Linked DNA regions of Homo sapiens: all the other regions are linked to region 3. Evidence: fine-mapped expression QTL. A gene starts in region 3. Each other region holds a variant in brackets. All regions are shown on one strand. Distances are from middle to middle.

Region 1 (6,441 bases), 210 kb before region 3:
TTTACATTAGGAAAAGAGAAACCAAAGGTCTGACATGGCCAAGGTAGCTTCACTCCTAGTATCAAAAATCTAATACCTCTGAGTTAAACTTAATATTTGTTTCTAATGGCACTGACTACCATTCCAGTGTCCAGGGAAACATTTAGATAATTTTCTCTTTCCCAGTTACTCAGAACACTAGGAGGAAAGGAGTTTACTTATAGAGTTTACAACACACAGATTTTCAAACCAACAAAGTCTGTCCCCAAAACAGACATTTGAAACCTCGAACACAGGTAAAAATAGCTAGATAAGGCAGAATCCAGAGGAAATTCAACTTTGTTCCCCACTAGTAGCTATATAAAAGGAAAAGTGTTTGTGTTCTAGTTCAGCTAATGGACAACACTCACACTGTCATTATTTTTATAACTCTTATATCGGGTATTTGGAATGCAGTGGTTTGAGCATTTCAAATAGTTTCTTTTTCCATGTTAGTGCCATGCCCAATGTTACTTTAAGTGAAATAATACTTGGATTTTGAATTCTTTCCAACATTTACAAAAAAAAAAGAAAATTTAAAAAGGAGATCTGCATTTCTTTGCACTTCCCTAGCACAGAGCCCTCGAGGTCGGTTATCTTGACTTTGTTATTTACAAAACCTATGCTCCGCCAATTCACCTAAGGTTTCTTGTGGATTTTCATAGTGAGTTCTAAAGCTACCAGCTACAGGAGGGTTTAATCAGAGAAGTCCAACATCAAAGGGTTTTCACTAGTGACTTTGTCAGATTTTCTTGCCTCAGTGAAATATCCTATTGCATTTCAGATGTAACAGACAATAAACACTATCATTCTGCCAGTGTCCCTCACTAATTTGGATTTTTTCCTCGACAGGCTGTTTTAAATCGTTTTGTCAGGATAAGCACACGTTTGTATTTTGAATTAATCCCTTCAAATGATTAAGCTGTTCTACAAATTTCTTTAAAAATAAAAGAAGAAATAGCATGGGGTCTTCCCTAATATTTCACCACCCCCAGACTTCCACAGTTACAGTGGGGTTCAGAGTGACAGCACCATATTCATACCAGAACCCCAGCTCAGCCATTTTCCCATTACTTGATGTGGGGTGAGTACTTCACTCTCTGTGCCTTATTTTTCTCATCTGTAAGCTGGATGTGATCATCATTATTATTTCTTTGAGTAGTAATAAGGATTAAAGAAGATACTGCATCAAAGAGTACTTACCATGGGATTTGCCACATAAGTTCCCAATGTGATTACTTATAGTAAGTAAATAAATATATACTACGTATCTGCAAAACACAGATCCTTTTTCCCCTCAAGAAACATTCTTTTCTCTAGTATATTTAGAATATTCTCATTGATACTAGCTAAGAAGTCTGTCATTTACAGTATACTTGAATTACTTACAGAATTTGAATTTGATAAAATACCAAAGCCACCAAAATTGTCTTGAATTTTATTTTTCCCTGGAAATTAAAAATATTCAGGAGGTTCAACAATAGGTCCATGTAAACCATCCTATTTGGTTAGATGCCAGAAAAATAATCTTTTATATTCCTGTGGTATTGAAAAATAACTTACAAAACCCATGCTCAGTGGACACAGAGATTGTAACAAGACTGTCTTGTTAATATCTATATCCCCAAGGAGTCCTGGAGACTTGCAGAAGGTGCTATATTAGTTAATGCTTACTCATGTTCATGTATTTCTTAAAACAATTCTTTACCCGAAAAATCGTGTCATTAAAAAGCTACTTAACCACATAGAGTTGTTTCCACATGGTTCCCCAGTCTCTTAATGTTGATGTCATTTCTGTGATAACAGAGTCTTCAGTGGGAATAACCATTTCAAATTGTCTGTGAAATTAAAAAAGAAAAAGTATATATGTAAATACCATAGACAACAATTTTGTTTTAAATACTCTAAAAGATAACTAGAAAAGAAAGCTGCCTAGCTATTGTTCGTTCTACAGACAGTAACCAGGATCTGGTTATAAGTTAATGTGAGGAATGCTACATGGGTTGTGGTAGGACAATACCAGAACAACCAGCCACTTCAACCAGATCAAGTTTGAGCAGCGTGGTGAAGAAGGAACAGCATCAGAAGGGTTGCACTCCAGTACCAGTTCACGACTAGGCAGCAACTCATTTAACCTAAGGCCAAAAGCCTTCATCTGTAACATGAGGTCACTGGGCTACATAAACTCTGAGGTGACTTTTGCCTTCCAAGGGCTATGACTATAGGACTCAAAGAGAGTAAAAGGAACACCATTCAATCACCAGGACATGATGGCTGTGGGCATCCAAACTAACTCAGTGTTATAAGTAACTAGACACTGAGATACTAATTGAACACTCTCTTGATCTCGGTAACACTTAATTTTTATTATTTGCAAACTAGGACCATGAGAAATGATTAGTATTCTAAGTAATGTTATCATACAGCATAGAACTTATGGCTTATGACATCACCGATATTTGAATATTCGTTCCAAAATGTTCCTCTTTCTGATTAGAGTAACGTAGTCTTCTCATTTCTTCTCTAAAAGTCAGAAACTATCCTTGGAAAATATTTATATCAATATCTAGTAGGGTGTGTATGGTGGTCCTGAAGTTGAGAATATGCATGAGGAGATGGGGGAAATAAAAGAGAAGTTTTGTGTTTTTTTTTTTTGAGAACAGAGTCTTGCTCTGTCGCCCAGGCTGGAGTGCAGTGGCGCGATCTCGGCTCACTGCAAGCTCCACCTCCCAGGTTCATGCCATTCTCCTGCCTTGGCCTCCCGAGTAGCTGGGACTACAGGTGCCTGCAACCAC[G/A]CCCGGCTAATTTTTTGTATTTTTAGTAGAGACAGGGTTTTACCGTGTTAGCCAGGATGGTCTCAATATCCTGACCTTGTGATCTGCCTGCCTCAGCCTCCCAAAGTGCTGGGATTACCAGTGTGAGCCACCGCGCCTGGCTGAGAAGATTTAATTTGTCCTCTGTATCCTACCTTTGGCATATAATAATCTTCATCTCCAGTTTCTTTTTTCAAATTCTTTCTTTGTGTGTGTGTGTGTGTGTGTGTGTGTGTGTGTGTGTGTGTGTGTATGTGCAGGTGAAAGTGGTTTAGTGGCTATTACTACCACTGCTTCCCAAAGAATGCTACTGATATATTGATTGAGACTATTTTCTTTATTTCAGTATATTTTTCTCAAGAAAACGTCTAATACATAGAAAGTAATGACATATTAGACACAGAACCATGTTGTCTAATGATCAAGGGGAAATTACTTCTTAGCATGAGACTAATAACTGTTCTGTGATTCCTTTTTCATGTTATGTCCAAAGTGTATATAATTGTCTTTTGTAAAATCTTCTTGTCAGACATATGGAAACTAAAATCTTGCCTTGATTTTTTTCCCAACAGAGTTTCATCTCCTCATTTCGCAGTGCTGCTAAAATACTTGCCCTATGAATATTTTCCTTCTTTCTAGAGCTTAAACACAGCTGAAAATGTAAAACTGGGATTTTAAACTAGAAATAAAAGTAAACAGTAATATATAAACTGTGACAGACACAGAACCTTTTATTAAGTCTGTATATGACATTTTTAAATGGTGGTACATTTATTTTGCTTTTGAAGCAGCGTTTGCAATTTAAATGATGAATATTTGGAGATGGAGATTATAAAATGATCCTATACAAGGTCAAGGAGGAAACACTGAATTTCCAGGGAAACCTGACATACTACTTAACATTTAAAAAGTGACATGACCTCAGTAGGAATTAAACAATACAGAAGTGGCCTCCCTGTCCATAAACTATAATTTAATTGACCTCCAACAGTCCTACATTGATCTGAAGACACAAGAAAGAACATACACGCAATTCAGTCTGTGAGAAGTTGATTGGGGGTTGTCCAAGCAAAATTTAAATTTTTAAGCATAAAATTGCCATTTTAGGCAAGGTGACTGTTTTCTATTAATTATTCCAAACCCAAAATCAGTGTTCAAATAGTCTGTCGTAAGTAGTTACCTCTGAAATTATATTTTGTTCAATTATTCTAGGATGGACTTTTCCATTATTTCATCCTAGTGGGCCATAAATCCACTTAAAATAAGACAGGTAATACCAAAACCCCAAAGATGTTCCTCTCTGGGAAAGCAATTACCTGGCAATACATGCTCTCAAATGTTTTCAGGCCAAAGTTTTTCTTCCAGTAACAGCCCTAGACCTAGGGTCTGAGTCAATTCCAATAAGTCTTTTACAGAAACTAATGTTGGGCTTTTCTGTTCTTCTGCTGCACAATGTCCATCATACCTAGTGTCAGGTGGAGACCCCATAAGAAAGTCTTAAACTTACATGACCAAATTTTTAGGTACTTTACCCACATTTAAACTTCCTGGGGCTCATGGAAGGGGATCAGATATACACCAGTTACTAACCAGGATTTAAAAAAAGGACGTACTTATTTAAAAACCATATCCTACCCCAACTCACTTTGAGGGATAGACTTTGATTAAGTGGAGAGATGCTTGACATCATCTTTGCTAGCACAGCATTCTCTCTTTTCTCTTCCTTGGTCAGAGCATATGATGCCCTTTGCACTGCAGAGTTGAGGGAGGTCAGGGTTGGGCTTGGGACAAAGGCAGCAAAGAGGACTGGTTGCACAGGCTTGCTCAAAAGGACACTTTAAGAAACAGGGGTAGCCCATGGTGTTTTCACATTGCCAAGCCCAGATCACTAGCACAGAAGGATCAGAACAAAGAGTAAGCATATGGCTGGAGTGTATTCTGAAGTATCCTCTGGTTTACTGGAGGGAGGCTGAATGGTATCACATCTAGCTGGGTAGGAAAGTTTCAAAAGGACCAACAACTTGGCTTGATGCTTCTGGTGGATTATAGCTGCACACTTCCAAAGGACACACATTTCTTAAAAGATCAGTAGTAGTAGTGGTAATTATTAGAATTAGAATTATGCTTTTAATCTATTATTCAATAATTACTATTACTGAGTGCTACTACTAACATGCTTAAAGCAGCTCACATATATAAGACATGTAGAGTAATGGTCTCTGAGATTCTTTAAGTTTTACCCATATAGGGAACTCTCAAAGTATTTATACCATAGACTCTTAGCCACATGCATAGGCTGTTTCCCTGAACTGAAATTTAATATCATATCTTTATTGAGGAGGAAATTATTTGAATAGCCTCGTTGGAACTTTTATCTTAAGACTCAAGTTGGAAAATGCCATTACTATGCTTTAAGAATTCAAATAATAAATTGCTATTTATCACTATTTGAGAAAAAATATAATTTCTATGGCTGAATCTGTATTCTGTTGTCCTAAGATGAAAATTATGCAATGATCATGTGAATAGTCCTTGTGACACTGACACCAAATGTTTGTGTCTAAATCCATGGCCCCTTATGATGAATGATCTGCTTATGCTAACTATTTACACAGGCAAGTTCTTCTGTTTTATCCTGCTGTACCTTATTGGAATTATGTTAAAGTGACTGCCACTTCAAATCCTTTTGGAAATAAGACTAGAAATTTTTTTAATGTATTAGAAATACTAGGTGATCAATGAGCTCAATCAAACAAAGTATCATATAAATGACATTCTCTAAAATAGAATAATGGCTTTGTGAAGTGGTCACACAAGAATATGTTATTATGCCCATTTAGAGAAAGACACACTATGCATCTTAGAATCAGTGGTGAACCTAGGAAATTCCTGGGGTTTGAGATAATATGACAGCATTTAATGGGTCTGACTGACATGCTTCCCTAAGTAGCAAGAAACCAAAAAGAACCAACTCCTTCTGCTCAAGCATAGGCTGATTCCCTGATTTGTGGACACTGAGAGACCTCCAGTCTCTCAGATCCTCTTGTCCAGCACACACAGATGGGGTTCTTTAATTTTCTCCACCAACGGTCTTAATGCAATATATCTTTAACAAAGAACACAGACAATGGTATGATCTTCTACAGTTCATTTTTCAAGACAATTACTATGCCTTTCAAATTCCAAAAGAAGCAAAGGCTCTGTGAAAATCCTCCAACTACTAATAAAACTCATTTCTTACCCTTTGTTCTTTACACAGGCATTTTTCAAGTGAACGTAGCTGGAAGGAAATATACCCTGGAAAAGAAAACATGAAGGTTACGATGCCGGCTGTTAAGGCAGGGTTGGTTTCACAAGTCATTTGTATAAAACACAGCCATACAACCATGACAACATCAGGAATAGGGAAAAGCAACATCTCTACCACATTCTCTTGGATGAAATCTACTGTGGCTTAAGATCCATCCTTTCATTTTCTACCATTAACTACTTTAAAAATTTAGAGACATTCTAAACAAATATGATCAAAAAAATTAAATCTTACTCAGAAAACATAATGTTTATTAAACAGAAAATAAGAAAATTTCAGGAATTCTATATAAAAACCATG
Region 2 (6,441 bases), 61 kb before region 3:
CTAAATGCTCCATTTGTTCAAGAGAGGCCAGAAATCCACAGTTTTAAAATGTAACATCCCCCCACTCATTGCAATTCTTAACTACTTGCAACTAATTCAAATTTAAGGCACCTAGTAATTTAACTCTATGAAGAGCAAATACACTGAGTCTAGGAGCCAGATGGGAGAGGGAGAAACAGGTTCTATGTGTTCTACATGCATTAACTCATGTGGTCCTCACAATGTCCCTGTGAGGTAGGTACTATTATTAAGCCCCTTTTGCAGATGAAGAAACTGTGGCATAGAGAGAAAAAATAACTCAGGCAAGGTCACATAGCTAGAAAGTGGGGCTGGTGGGATGTCAAACCTGGCAGAGTATAGGGCCACAGACAACATTGCACACCTTTTCTAGGATCATTATTGAAGAGTTTTAGCTCTGAATTTTCACTATTGTATGTTAGGCTTGTAAGGCAGTCATGGAAATTTTACAGGTAGAGAAAATGTGACCCAGGAAACTCAAGACATGTTGACTGTCTAACCCATGCAGAAGAGCCAAGAATTCAACTGAAGCCTTACTCCTTTGCCTTTCAACTCAGCAGGTACAACACTGTCTCAGGAAAGCTCATCACTAATGCATTTCTAATGAATGGCCTTGCTGGGCTTTTGTATTAGTATTATTTACTATTTTTTAAATTAAACATTTTAGTCCTTGAATAGGTTTAGAAAATAATATAATGATCCCCAGAGTGCCTACCACTCATTTTTTAAAATTAAATGTTACAATAGAAAGCTCACATGTATTCTTTACCACTACAGAACTAAACAGGATCCTGAATTTTGTGTATATCATTCACATACATGTGCAAGTTTTTACACTGCTACTTCACATGCATACATAGTATCTAGTATTGCTTTGCATGCTTTTAAACCTGAAGTAGGTGGAAACATAAGGCATATACCCTTCTGCAACTTGCTTGTTTCCTTTAATGCATTTGACATTTATTTTTACTATTGCATAGCACAGGATATTTATCTATTTGTTTTTACTAGACATTAGGTTGTACCTGGAAACAAAGAACTTTGTACATGTGTCTTTTTATGAATAAGTGTGAGGCTTTCTCTAAGGGTGGATAAGTGGGGGTGACTAAAATAATTTTATTATAATTATGTAAAATGCTTACACTGGGGGAAGTGGGTGAGTTAGGTAAGGGACTCTTTCTATGATTTTTGCAACTTTTCTGTAATTCTAAAATTAGTTCAAAACCAAAAGGTTAAAAAAAAAAGGAAAAGAACATCTCCTCTGGGCCACTCCAAGCAATTCACCATAGGATCACAATGCCTTGGGCTGAATCCTAGACACAGACGAGACCTCCACAGCAGTGGAAACAGGAAAAGGCTAGCTCCAGGGCCCTCCATCCCAGAAATGCCACAAAACTGCCATATGAAACTGGTTGTTTAAAATGCCTCAAATAGCTGAGCTTATATACGGTCAAGTATGATTAACTAAAACCAAAGCAATTCTTTGAATATTTATAAACCAAGACAAGCAGACGTCATTTAAATTGAAAAGGCAACAAAGCTCCATTAGTGAAAAAGTCTCTCAAGCTACAACTCTCTATCAAATACATGAAATGACTTGTCTTTTACCTAGGTTTAAATTGTATCTGATATATTTGTTTAATTCTATGCATTTGGGGGCACATCTAAAAGTTCGCGGCTCTCCAACTATAAGGAATGGGAGGGCCTCTTGGAATTCAAGCATCTATTCTTTGTCTTCCTGTTCTTTCCAACCAGTCAGATGCCCTGTGCCAGGAGAAAAATGTGTTTATATAAAGTCTCCTGAGAGTGGGACTAAGAAGAGCTACATGGGCCAAACCCAACCCCAGCCATCTCCTCTAGGAAGCCTGCCAGGGCTAACCTCATCTGAACCACATCATTCATCTCCTCCTCTTTCCCTTTAGACTTACACATTCCCTTTGGTCTCAATCACAGCACTTGCAGATGTTTTGATTCGGATCATCTGTAAGTTCTTGTTACATTTTCTCTTCCTACACGGATTGTAAACTTTTCAAGGCATTATGTCAATCCATCAACAAGTGTGACTGCCAGAATATAGCAGAAAGAAGCTGAAGTGGAAAGAGTATGGGGCTTGGTAATATCTCTGCAATCACAATTTAGGGATGCTACAATCTTTTGGGGGACTCAGTTTCCTTGGCATTCTTCAGTTTCTAAGATACTTTCCTCCCATTAAATTCTACTGGAAGAATCCCTTCATTTCACCTTCCTCTAGTGACAGTATTACATACAAGACACATGGACACAAGAGACATAATCCTTGCCAGTAAGAACCATCTCAGTATTTTATTTTCTTTTTTTGGCACCTCTCACAATATAAGTAGTCCACTATGAACTAAGCACTATTCAGTAAATGTTGGTTAAAGTAGCAAAGTGATAAGCCAGTGGCTGGGGAATAAACAGACTCAGCAGCTTCTTTATCTGAAGTGTGTGTTCTCTATCTAGCCTTCTCCATCATGGCCCATACTCGGGAACAGTTTGACATTTTAGCACCATATGGCTGAGTGAGGATCCAAAGGCCACACAAAAAATTGCCAGCCCACTTGGCATTTCCTACATTTGCCCAGGCAGATGGCACTAGGCAT[C/T]CAGCTCACAGCTGCAACCTAGGTCAGATCTAGGAGGACCAGGGTATCTCCAGGATGCCAGGTCATCAAGGACCCAGGGCAGTGGCAACAGAGCTTTGCAGGTCAGCACCTCAATGCCAAAGCTAATAATCTAACACTCATTTACCCAGATTTCTGGCACAGCTGAGAAAATATCCTAGTAGTTTTTGCAAACATCTTTCTATCAGAGGTATCCTGTAACTACACTCTGCACACCAAAATACCACATCTCTAAAGCACACTGTGGTATGCACACTCTCCTTGGGATGCTTGGGAACATCAGTCCTACCAGGACTACTGACGCAAAGCGAGCAGAGAGGTGTGATAAGAGGAATCTCATCCCAGAATATGCCTGGATTTCATCATTAGGAATTTTTGTTCCACTGGGTTATGAAACACTCTTGCTTGTTAGAATTTTTTAAAGTACTACACTTAAGCTATAAATGCAGAAATTTTCCGGTGCTTCTGTAAGAGCACTCCCTATATGATGAAACGATATCTATTAATATGTTGTAAAAAGGAGGAAAGTTGCAGGTGGTTCCAAGGCAGGGACCGGACACCTTAGGGAGGTATAAAGGCAGCAGGTGCTAGAGAGGTTAGCAAGCATCAGGCAAGCACCACAGAAAGAAAAAGCAAATGTGAATCAAAGACAATTTGCCTCAAGAACTGGAATGAGGATATTTTATAGGCATAAGTGTTCAGACTTAGGCTGAGATCCATGAACCACATCCCTAAGCAAAGCTTTGTTGTAACTTGCCACGTCTCAGTTCTCCAGACCCTAAAATCTCTCTTAAACAACATAGGAACATACACATACTAATAAACTCCCATATGCTAGGCCTAAGATTGGTTTGGCTCACATAAAACTGAGGCACATGCAGGCATATGTTGTTTGGGAAAAGGGCCGCGGGGCTCGCAGTAATGCAATATTATATATTCAGAGATACAACAGAATTCTTCCCAGTTTACAGTGCTAAAGCTGGCTATTCAGAGGATGAGAAATTCCAAACGGACATACCATTTCTTGTGTAATAACAGTTAATCTGTATACAAACCTAACAGGATCATTAAGCAGGATTTTTATATTTCCTTTAACGCACACCAAATTTCAACCTCCCTCTAGTAAGCCTTGCATTCCACTAGACATACATGCACATGAGGGATGATTCTGGAAACATGATTTGCATGGAAATCTTTTGTCATCTGACTTCACCTCTAAAGTCCAAGTCACAGCATCCAAGTCACAGAACTTAGTTACTTGGAAGAAAAAAAAAAATGGGGCACTGGGTGGGTCAAGGAGGGTGTGAGAGCAAGTATGTAAAAATATATTTATAACAATCTATTATTCAATATCATCTAACTTCGCTTAAACTGCGTACTATATTAGAATGTGCTTATATGTTTGTTTGTGATATAGAAAATGAGAGAAATACACTGGAAGAGATAATATTCTAACAGGATAAAATACCTCCCAAAGCCAGAAGTCCACATAACGAAGCCAAGGATCCAACATCTAAAATCACAACATGGCAGTATTCATCAAACACTTAGCACAAAGATTGGTTTTTGTAGCAAGAACCTGAGGTGACTTTACAGAGGAACTCACCTTTGAAAAGTGGCTGGGTCTTAAATGCTTTGCCAGAAAGACTTCATCGAATCAGCCTTTTTCTAAGGTTGGCATGGGAGGAGTTTCAAAGTCTCCAAGCAAAAGCTACAGAAGTCCCCACAGCATGGTCATCCTAGAAGAGGCTTTCCAAGGCTTTCTTTAACAAGTTGGCAAAACTTGATCCCCTCCTTCCTGGTCACTGTGATTTCAGAAGTGTTAAATAAAATAGAGGAATTTCAAAGCCCCAAAAGCTGCTTTGTTGCCAGTATAACTGAAAGAACTTTGAAGCCAGGTGCAGTGGCTCATGCCTGTAATCCCAGCATTTTGGGAGGCTGAGGCAGGCAGATCCTTTGAGGTCAGGAGTTTGAGACCAGCCTAGGCAATGTGGCGAAACCTCATCTCTACAAAAACTATAAAAATTAGCTGGGTGTGGTGGCGTGCACCTATAGTCCCAGCTACTCAGGAGGCTGAGGCAGGAGGATCACCTGAGTCTGGGGAGGTTAAGGATGCAGTGAGCCCTGATGGCACCACTGCACTTTTGCCTGGGCAACAGTGTAAGACCTTGTCTCAAAAAAGTACTTTGGCAGAGGAAGAACATTTTACAGAGATCTAGGAGGCTTCGATATCTCTTCATCCCATCTAATTTCTTCATTAAGTTTGAAATTAAGAATTTGTAATAATTTAGACGAGTGTAACAGTATCCAAAATTTGATTATATTTTCTCTAAAGAAAGGATATGCTAGGGAAACCAGTAATGCAAATAAAAATGTTTTAAATATTTAAGAGAAGACACTTTCTTAAAAGCCCCAAAGCACCTTATAAATACATCTACCTACAAATGATATATAACTATCATGTATTTATTTTTTAAAGCAGGACTCCTAGTAATATATACTAGGGAACACTTTGTTATATTAATCCAGATATTAAAATTATTTGATGGTAATACAGTTCTTATATAATAATGTTTATAGATATTGTATTGTACCTAATTTAGATTACCTTCAATCTGAATTCAGCATTGTCATTAGAAATATACACAGGTGAACAGTAAATTATTGGGTTTTTAGAGACTACAACCCACGTAAGTCTAATTAGTCACTAAAACTATCTTTTCTAAATGGCAAGTAAAATATGTTTTGGGCGTTTTCAAGGAGATCCAAACCTAGGTTCTACTAGTACCAGAATAGACAATTTTTTAGTCTCTTAGAACCACATTTTAAGCACAGACATTTATATCAGTGCATGTCTACCACCTTTAGCTCTGTCCTGGATCCACCTGACCTGTAACATTTCCCTTTGGGCTTAACAGAGTCAACATTCTTACAGTTAACAGATATTTTGCCTAAAAATATTTTATTTTGAAATTGTTTTCAGCCTTTGCCCAATACCTCAAAATACCCTCAAAGGTATTTCCTATAATTGAAAAGTTTGCCCACTTTCCTGTGTTCAGTATAAAATCTAGAAATCCTGCATCAGAAGACCTGGCCACAACCATCACAAAAATAAGGCGGTTATCTGAGAGGTAAGCTCTGAGTCACAAAACCTCCGTACTGAATTCAAGTAATTGAAGACACGAGTGAAGAATCCATCCTTAACTACACAGGAACAATTCCCAGGAGCAAACGTAGATTTTTTTTTTTTTTTTTTTTTTTTTTTTTTGATAAAGAGAAGCCACCACCAGGAGGAGGCTTGAAAGCTTGAATTTAATTACTTCTCCATCTCCTCATTATTCCACCCAACTCCCTACTTCCCCATCTCATTTCACAGCCTCCACCAGCTCTCCCCTCAGGCCTCCTATCACCCCTCTGCTCAAGCACACATGCTCTCTCCCTCTCCTCCACACTCCCACTGCTTGATGTTCTCTGCTTTCTGTGTCTTGCTTTCACAGCATCCAGCTTTCTAGTAAATTGTCGCTGAATCAACATCTTCCATTGGAAGTCTGTGTAGACGGCATTGTCCTGGAAAGACAGAAAAGCTAAAGAAAGCCTCCTCCTTTAAGACATATAAAGCACTGACAAAAATGGCCACAGAATCTTCATTGCTGGAGTCAAGATTATAATAGGGATTCCAGTGATTGATGCTGGGCCTTTCAAAGCCACATCTCAGCTCTCCAGAGTGCTGGCAGAGGGACAGGGGGAGATGTCAGAAGAATGGCTTAGAGCCAGGACTAACATA
Region 3 (6,441 bases):
ACAAAAGTGTCTCTGTCATAGCAGTCTCAACACAATGAAGATGTTTTTCTAACCAAAGAACACAGTTAGTTGGAAGAGCTCTACAAAATTAGTACCAGGGAAGGCTTTAGTTAACACTTGCCCCAGACGCTGGGACCCAGAAAGGCTAAGTGATTTACCTAAGGTTACACAGCTGGCAGCAGTGTCTAGCCCAGAATCAAGAGCTAACTAGAATCTCCTAAGGTGAAATTGCCTATCACTGTGCCTCTTAACATGATTTCTAAAAGACAAGGTTCCCTGTTCCTCAGAACTATAACTTCATCACTATACCTTTTCCTAAAATCAGAACACTTATGACTGACTTTTCGTTGTTTTAATGAATTTAATCATTCATTAAATGGGACGGTGCCTATACATCAGTTACGAAAAAGAATTTCCATCTCCGATACATTTAATTACAGATATAAAATTTAACTAATTTTACCCATGTTTACAGTATGCTGCTTAAAATTTAATCATAAGTATATAAAAGCATAATTATCTCATACATAAATGAGGGTATATAAAAAGTACCTTTGCAGAAATATATAATTTATACTAAAACGTCACATATTCTGTTACAAAGACTGATTTATTTCAAAGAATGAAGAAACTAAATTACCACTACACTTGGTAACAAAGATCTGTGCCCATAAGATCTTTTCTTTAACATCTGTAAGAACTACATGAGAAAAACACAAACATTAACCAAGGTTAAAAGAAAAAACAAACAACTTGCAATATAAGCAGCTATAAACAGTGCCCTCCATGGTGAAAAATAAAGTCCACACATAAGTATCCTAGCAAAAATTTCACTACACACACACACACACACACACACACACACACACACACACGCCTAACAGATGGATTCTAAAAAACAGCTAAGCATTCCACAATCCAAATGCTCAAAAATTAATAATAAAGGTTAATTAACATTCTGGCACATGTGATATTGAGAACAACAGCAGTAATTTGGGGCAAAAGACCCTCTCTCTGCTCTCGTCCTTCATCTCATTCAACCTCTTTTTCTCAATTGTGAGCACACCCTTCTGCCTCCCCTACTCTGCAATCAAATCACAACCACCCAAAACCGAGGTGTCTGCTGCAGCCCAAAACATTTGACTGATAATATCCGGTTTGCCATTCCAGGAAATCCCAGAGTGGTTTTTAAGCCTCTGCCCACCGCTTGTAAAGAAAGGCAAGAGAGGAACTAATCGATACCAGCACCCCAGCTGTGACCTGGCACATGAAGAAATCAAGAAAATAAATCCCATCCATAATCTGTATAATTTAACACTTGGAAGAAAGCAACATCTGGGATCGACTCCAAGCAGGACAGTTTTGCCTGGATGGATCTGAGCTTCCTGCACTGAGTGTTAAAGCCGCTTAGGAGGCGATGCCCTCGGGTCCCTCACCAGTCCAGCAAAGGGACTATCTTTTTCCCTAGCAAGGGTTAATCTACCTCCCAAAAAAGAGAAGAGTGAGGAGAACGAAAATAACAACTACTAACATCTACTCCTTGCCAGTAAAGAGGCTGGCAAAGACTCCTCTGACACTTTGAAGGAGGGAAAGCTGGAAACCTTTCCCAAAGGTGGGTTCAGGTCAAACTATTGTCTTGGTAATTAGTCACAATCCAGAATGGAAGCTAACGTGAAATGTGGGAATGATTTTGTTGAATCCTACAGTCCTTTCAATGGACCCCAAAGTCCTATCCCCAGGCAAAGTTGGGAAAAAAAAAAACAAAAATCCCCTCGGACTACGACTCCCTGGGAAGGCTTTCCAGATGTTTTAAATTGCAGGAAAATGAATTTAGAACATAAGCAGATATCTACACATCACCTAAATCACTAGACCTGTCCTCAATTTTAAAACACACACACACACACACACACACACAAAGTACACCAGTCGGCAGAACAGGGCATTATAGGAAATAAAGAGTGTTAGTAAAATCCATAATGCTTTCTGTTAGACCTTCTGGGAGGTTATAATTGCATTTGGCCGGCTGCAGCCTTGTCGGAGAGCCTGGCTTCTTAATAGTCTCAACCCTAAAAGGAGTAACTGTCAAGGGGCGACCCAGCTGAAATCAAACAACAAAAACGGGAACTGTAACCCGCCTGAAATGGGAGGAGGAAAAGGAAGGGAGACTCCTGTATTCATCAGTCAACATTAATGTCCTTTGTTGTTCACCTTTACACAGAACAGCGAGAGCTATCCTGTTCCTTTTTCTCCGAACGCCAGTGTCAGGGTATGCTTTCCTAAAAGCTATCTCCCTGCCCCCAAGAACCAGGCTTTCCGATCCCCCTCCCCATTTATCACTCAGCAGCCCTGTACCGCCACACCGCCCCCACTGCGCTCACCCGGGGTCGAGAGGGTGGCCAGAAGTAAAAACACTGCTGAAATACCCGTTCTTCTCCAAAGACCAAAGAACCGAGCGGCGCAGATGTTGAAATTTACCAATGCCCCCGCCCCGCAACATACACACCCCATAAATCCGGGATCGCAGAGAGGGAGGAGGGTCAGAGAGGGCTCAGCTTGTCAGAGCGGCTCTCTCCAGGACCCTGCCACATTCCACACTCCGGGAATGTCGATCCGAGCCAGAGGGAAGGGTTTGCGCCTCCCTACTGTTTTGGGGGTGTTCTCTCTGCCCGAGTGTTGTTGTCTCCCTCTCCACCCAGAGGAACCGTTGCAGCTCCCTGTCGCTTTGGGGAAGAAGGGTAAGGAAGGAGAGAAACCCCATTCGCCTCCTCTTCCAACTTGACACACACACACACACACACACACACGCCCAGTCGCCACTCCAAACTCCGCAGGCAGAGCCCGAAGCTAGCGGGCCGGCCGCGCGCTCCCCCAAGCTGTCCCGGCGCTTCGGGAACCAGTGCGGGGCGCGCCGAGCAGGCGGTGCGGGGCGAGAGCCTGGTGCGCAGCCCTCTGCCTGGAGCTGGCTCGGCAAAGCCCCGTACCAGCTGCGCGATGCCAGGATTAGGCATTTTCAACCGGGCGGAGCGAGAGGGGCGCGGGGGCAAGGACGAGAAATGCGCACTCGCTCGGGCCAGAGCAGAATAAAAGTTCGCCCCGCGGAGACTCACCCACGCCGTATTTCTCGTGCTCCGTAGGTATCCACATGGCTAAAGGGGCTCCGGGGTCTTCAGGCTTTGTAATCCCCGCGCCCCTTCTCCGGCTCACAACAATGCACAGTCCCCGAGCAGCGCTGCAGTGCCGGAGCCCAGCGGCTTCGCGCGGGCTGCGGGCGCTGGGCAGGATCTGCGCTGGAGGCTCCCGAGCCCAGCGTTGACACTGCGCCGCCCGCAGCTCTCCCGGCGGCGGCTGCTCACAGTCCTCCGACGCGCTCCCGGGTACCCGGCGGCGCAGTCATTGTTCTGATTCACTGAACTAAGCGAACACGCCGGGGCACTCTCCGGCGCACCCCCGCCCGCCAGCGCCTAGTCCAGCCCTCCCGTCCCAGGGCCCCGCAGCACGCTGGGAATTGTAGTTCTTGGCCTCCCCATCCCGGAAGTGGGCGCGGCAAATGTGGTTCGGGGCGGGGATTCAGTTTTACTGATTGCGTCCTATTGGTCCAGAGCGCGGCGTAGGTGTGGAGAAAACATTACGTCGACGGGGAGTTCGCCTCCAGTAGCGTTTCTACTGGTGCCACCCCGCCTCCGACCCGCCCTGCGGCCCTCCCTTTTCTTTTCTGCCGGGTAATGGCTGCTTCCAAGACCCAGGGGGCTGTCGCCCGAATGCAGGAAGACCGTGATGGGAGCTGCAGCACAGTCGGGGGTGTAGGTTATGGGGGTGAGTACGGTGCCCCGGAGGCGCGGCTGATGTGTCTTCCTTTCTCTATGACCGGGTGTGCAACGGACCTCTGGTCTGACCCTAGGAGCCCTTCAGCTCTGGGGCCACCTGGGTTCGACTGGGCCCCACGGGTGGTGGCCCAGCGGGATGGGTTGGAGCCGGTGGCGGCTACTTGGTTGGGGCTGCCCGGGGATGGCGGAGAAAATGCCATGGGATGGCGGAGAAAATGCCATGGAATGGCCTTCCCCTCCGCCGGGGAAGCTCCCTGAGCGTTTGTCTTCTGGTTTGGAGCTCCCAGCTTTGAGCTAGCTGCTGAGTGGGTTTGGTTCAGATCTGGTTCGCGCGCGTGTGTTTATAATTTTGGGATTAGCAGCTCTTTCTCCTCACCAGTACACTGCCTTGGTTTGCTTGGTTTGACCTCGCAGGTGTGTTTTATTTAGCTTCCGGAGTATTTCCAGTCGCAGACTGGTGGTCACTGCTCTCCACTCTACAGATTTGCCCAGTTTGTGGCTGAGGTGACCTCTGAAGGGAAAGTGTGTGTATCTCACAACCTCCCTGTAGATGGTTAACTGCTCTGGGTGTTCTTCAGATTTGTATGTGGAGCCTGAGAGATCTTCCCAGTCTCTGGGTCCTTAGAGAAAGAAAAGGAAAGTGATAGATAATTTGCACTCGTGGCTTCAAAGAACATTTGAAAAGAGTTTTGAAAACCATCACAACTTTGGCTGTACCTGACTTTCAGGTTGTCCTCTGATCCACTGTAGGAATAAAAAACCAAATTTTGAAAGCTGCAGGTGGATTGTGTTTAGGACTCTTTTACCTTTAGTCTATCCCTCCCCCATTCCCCCCACCCCATTTTTGTCTTGATGTGTAATTTAGCACAAGTTGTCTTTTTCTGATGAACATGGTTTGGGGCTTAAATATAGTTCTCAGACTGTTGCGACTTTGTTTTTCGATTTATTTGTTTTTGCTTTCACAGTTAAATTGATATCATCTTAAGTATTTACCTCAGCGGCACAGAGTTGAAGTGCAGTTTTTTCCCACTTCCCAACAGTGGAACTCCCTACTCTGAAATTATTTTAGTACCTCTACCAAACAAATCTTTGGTAGTCTCCTGAGTTAAATATTGAATTTAACACCCTAATGGTTTATTTTTGGGTTGGTTATATATTGGGCTATCTGATGGTAACAGACTATTACGGTTTCCTAGATTTTCAAAGTTCCAGAGGGCTACCAGTTTAAGATCTAAACTGGTGAATTTATCTCACAGTCTAACTTATTTTAAAAAATGGCCGGGCACGGTGGCTCACCCCTGTAATACCAGCACTTTGGGAGGCCGAGGCGAGTGGATCACAAGGTCAGGAGTTCGAGACCAGCCTGGCCAATATGGTGAAACCCCGTCTCTACTAAAAATACAAAAATTAGCCGGGCGTGGTGGCGGATGCCTGTAGTCCCAGCTACTCGGGAGGCCGAGGCAGGAGAATCCCTTGAGCCCGGGAGGCGGAGGTTGTGGTGAGCCATGATCCACCACTGCACTCCAGCCTGGGAGGCAGAGCAAGACTCTGTATCAAAAACAAAACAAAAAAAAAGGATATGCCTTTCAAAAATGTAAAATATTTAAAAATATTTATTTTTAAATTTTACAAGTTTAAAAGTTTTTAAAAGCACTTCAAACCATTCAGAAGTGTATGAAGTAAAAAAAATGAAAATTCCCTCACCTCACAGCACCACTCCCCGAGTATTAAGTGATAAGAGTTTGGTACATATTCTTTCCAACATATTCTTCTTCTTCTTTTTTTTTTTTTAATCCTACAATCCGTATTCTGTTAAACCACCATATTCTTATATGACACACGTCTGTATGATTTGATTTTTTTTTTTTTTTTTTTTTTTTGAGACGGAGTCTCGCTTTGTCAACCAGGCTGGAGTGCAGTGGCGCGATCTCGGCTCACTGCAAGCTCCGCCTCCCAGGTTCACGCCATTCTCCTGCCTCAGCCTCCCGAGTAACTGGGACTACAGGCGCCAGCCAACAAGCCCGGCTAGTTTTTTGTATTTTTAGTAGAGACGGGGTTTCACCGTGTTAGCCAGGAGGTCTCGATCTGCTGACCTCGTGATCCGCCCGTCTCGGCCTCCCAAAGTGCTGGGATTACAGGCGTAAGCCACCGCGCCCGGCCTATGATTTGATTTTTATAATAAAAAGGGATAAATCTATATAAACTGAAAGATCTGCAACCTTCTTTTTTCTTTCAGCAGTCTATCATAGAAACCCTTCCACGTCAGTACATTTGTTTCCTTTTTTTTTAAGGACTGTGCCCATCATATTCCAAAATATGATTGTGCCATTCTTTATCCATTCCCTTATAAATGAACATATAGTGTGACTTTAGTTTTTCAGTAATGTTGCAATGAACAACTTTATGTACATATATTCTTGCCCACTGGTTGTATATTTTGGGAGAAAATTGCTGGATCAAAGGTTATGCAAGTTTAAAATTTTGACAGATGCCAGACTTTCCTCTTAAAATATATTCAGCATACATTGCCACCTGTAGTATATGAGTGTTCTTTCCCCCATATTGTCACAAACTTTGAGGAAATAATCCAGGACCAATGTTTCAATGACTAGTA

Which allele goes with the higher level. Positions count from the first base shown, and alleles are read on the strand shown. Sizes are in standard deviations (SD) of each study's normalised expression. Not every link is listed here.
For the expression in testis of the gene that starts at base 3,408 in region 3, G is the high allele of the variant in region 1 and A is the other (small effect, 0.26 SD a copy in GTEx).

Evidence for each region. PIP is the estimated chance that this variant, and not a neighbour inherited with it, causes the effect. A credible set is the group of variants that fine-mapping cannot tell apart.
Region 1: its variant is the best candidate, but not a certain one, in a credible set for the expression of DOCK4 in testis (GTEx, PIP 0.83).
Region 2: its variant is the best candidate, but not a certain one, in a credible set for the expression of DOCK4 in cerebellar hemisphere (GTEx, PIP 0.90).

What each region holds. Positions count from the first base shown.
Region 1 is chr7:111,992,376-111,998,816 of GRCh38, forward strand. DOCK4 (dedicator of cytokinesis 4) reads right to left here. Exons shown (of 53, transcript NM_001363540.2): 4 at 6,073-6,128; 5 at 1,760-1,856. Among named protein-coding and RNA genes, the nearest start is that of DOCK4-AS1, 190 kb to the left of the region's middle. The variant G/A (reference allele first, on the strand shown) is at 2,814.
Region 2 is chr7:112,141,901-112,148,341 of GRCh38, forward strand. The region is part of intron 1 of DOCK4 (dedicator of cytokinesis 4); the gene reads right to left. Among named protein-coding and RNA genes, the nearest start is that of DOCK4, 61 kb to the right of the region's middle. The variant C/T (reference allele first, on the strand shown) is at 2,640.
Region 3 is chr7:112,202,992-112,209,432 of GRCh38, forward strand. DOCK4 (dedicator of cytokinesis 4) reads right to left here and starts at 3,408. Exons shown (of 53, transcript NM_001363540.2): 1 at 3,111-3,408. The coding sequence starts at 3,147. It overlaps ZNF277 (zinc finger protein 277), which reads left to right and starts at 3,704. Exons shown (of 12, transcript NM_021994.3): 1 at 3,704-3,816. The coding sequence starts at 3,726. RefSeq lists a silencer at 3,280-3,629 and an enhancer at 3,800-3,919.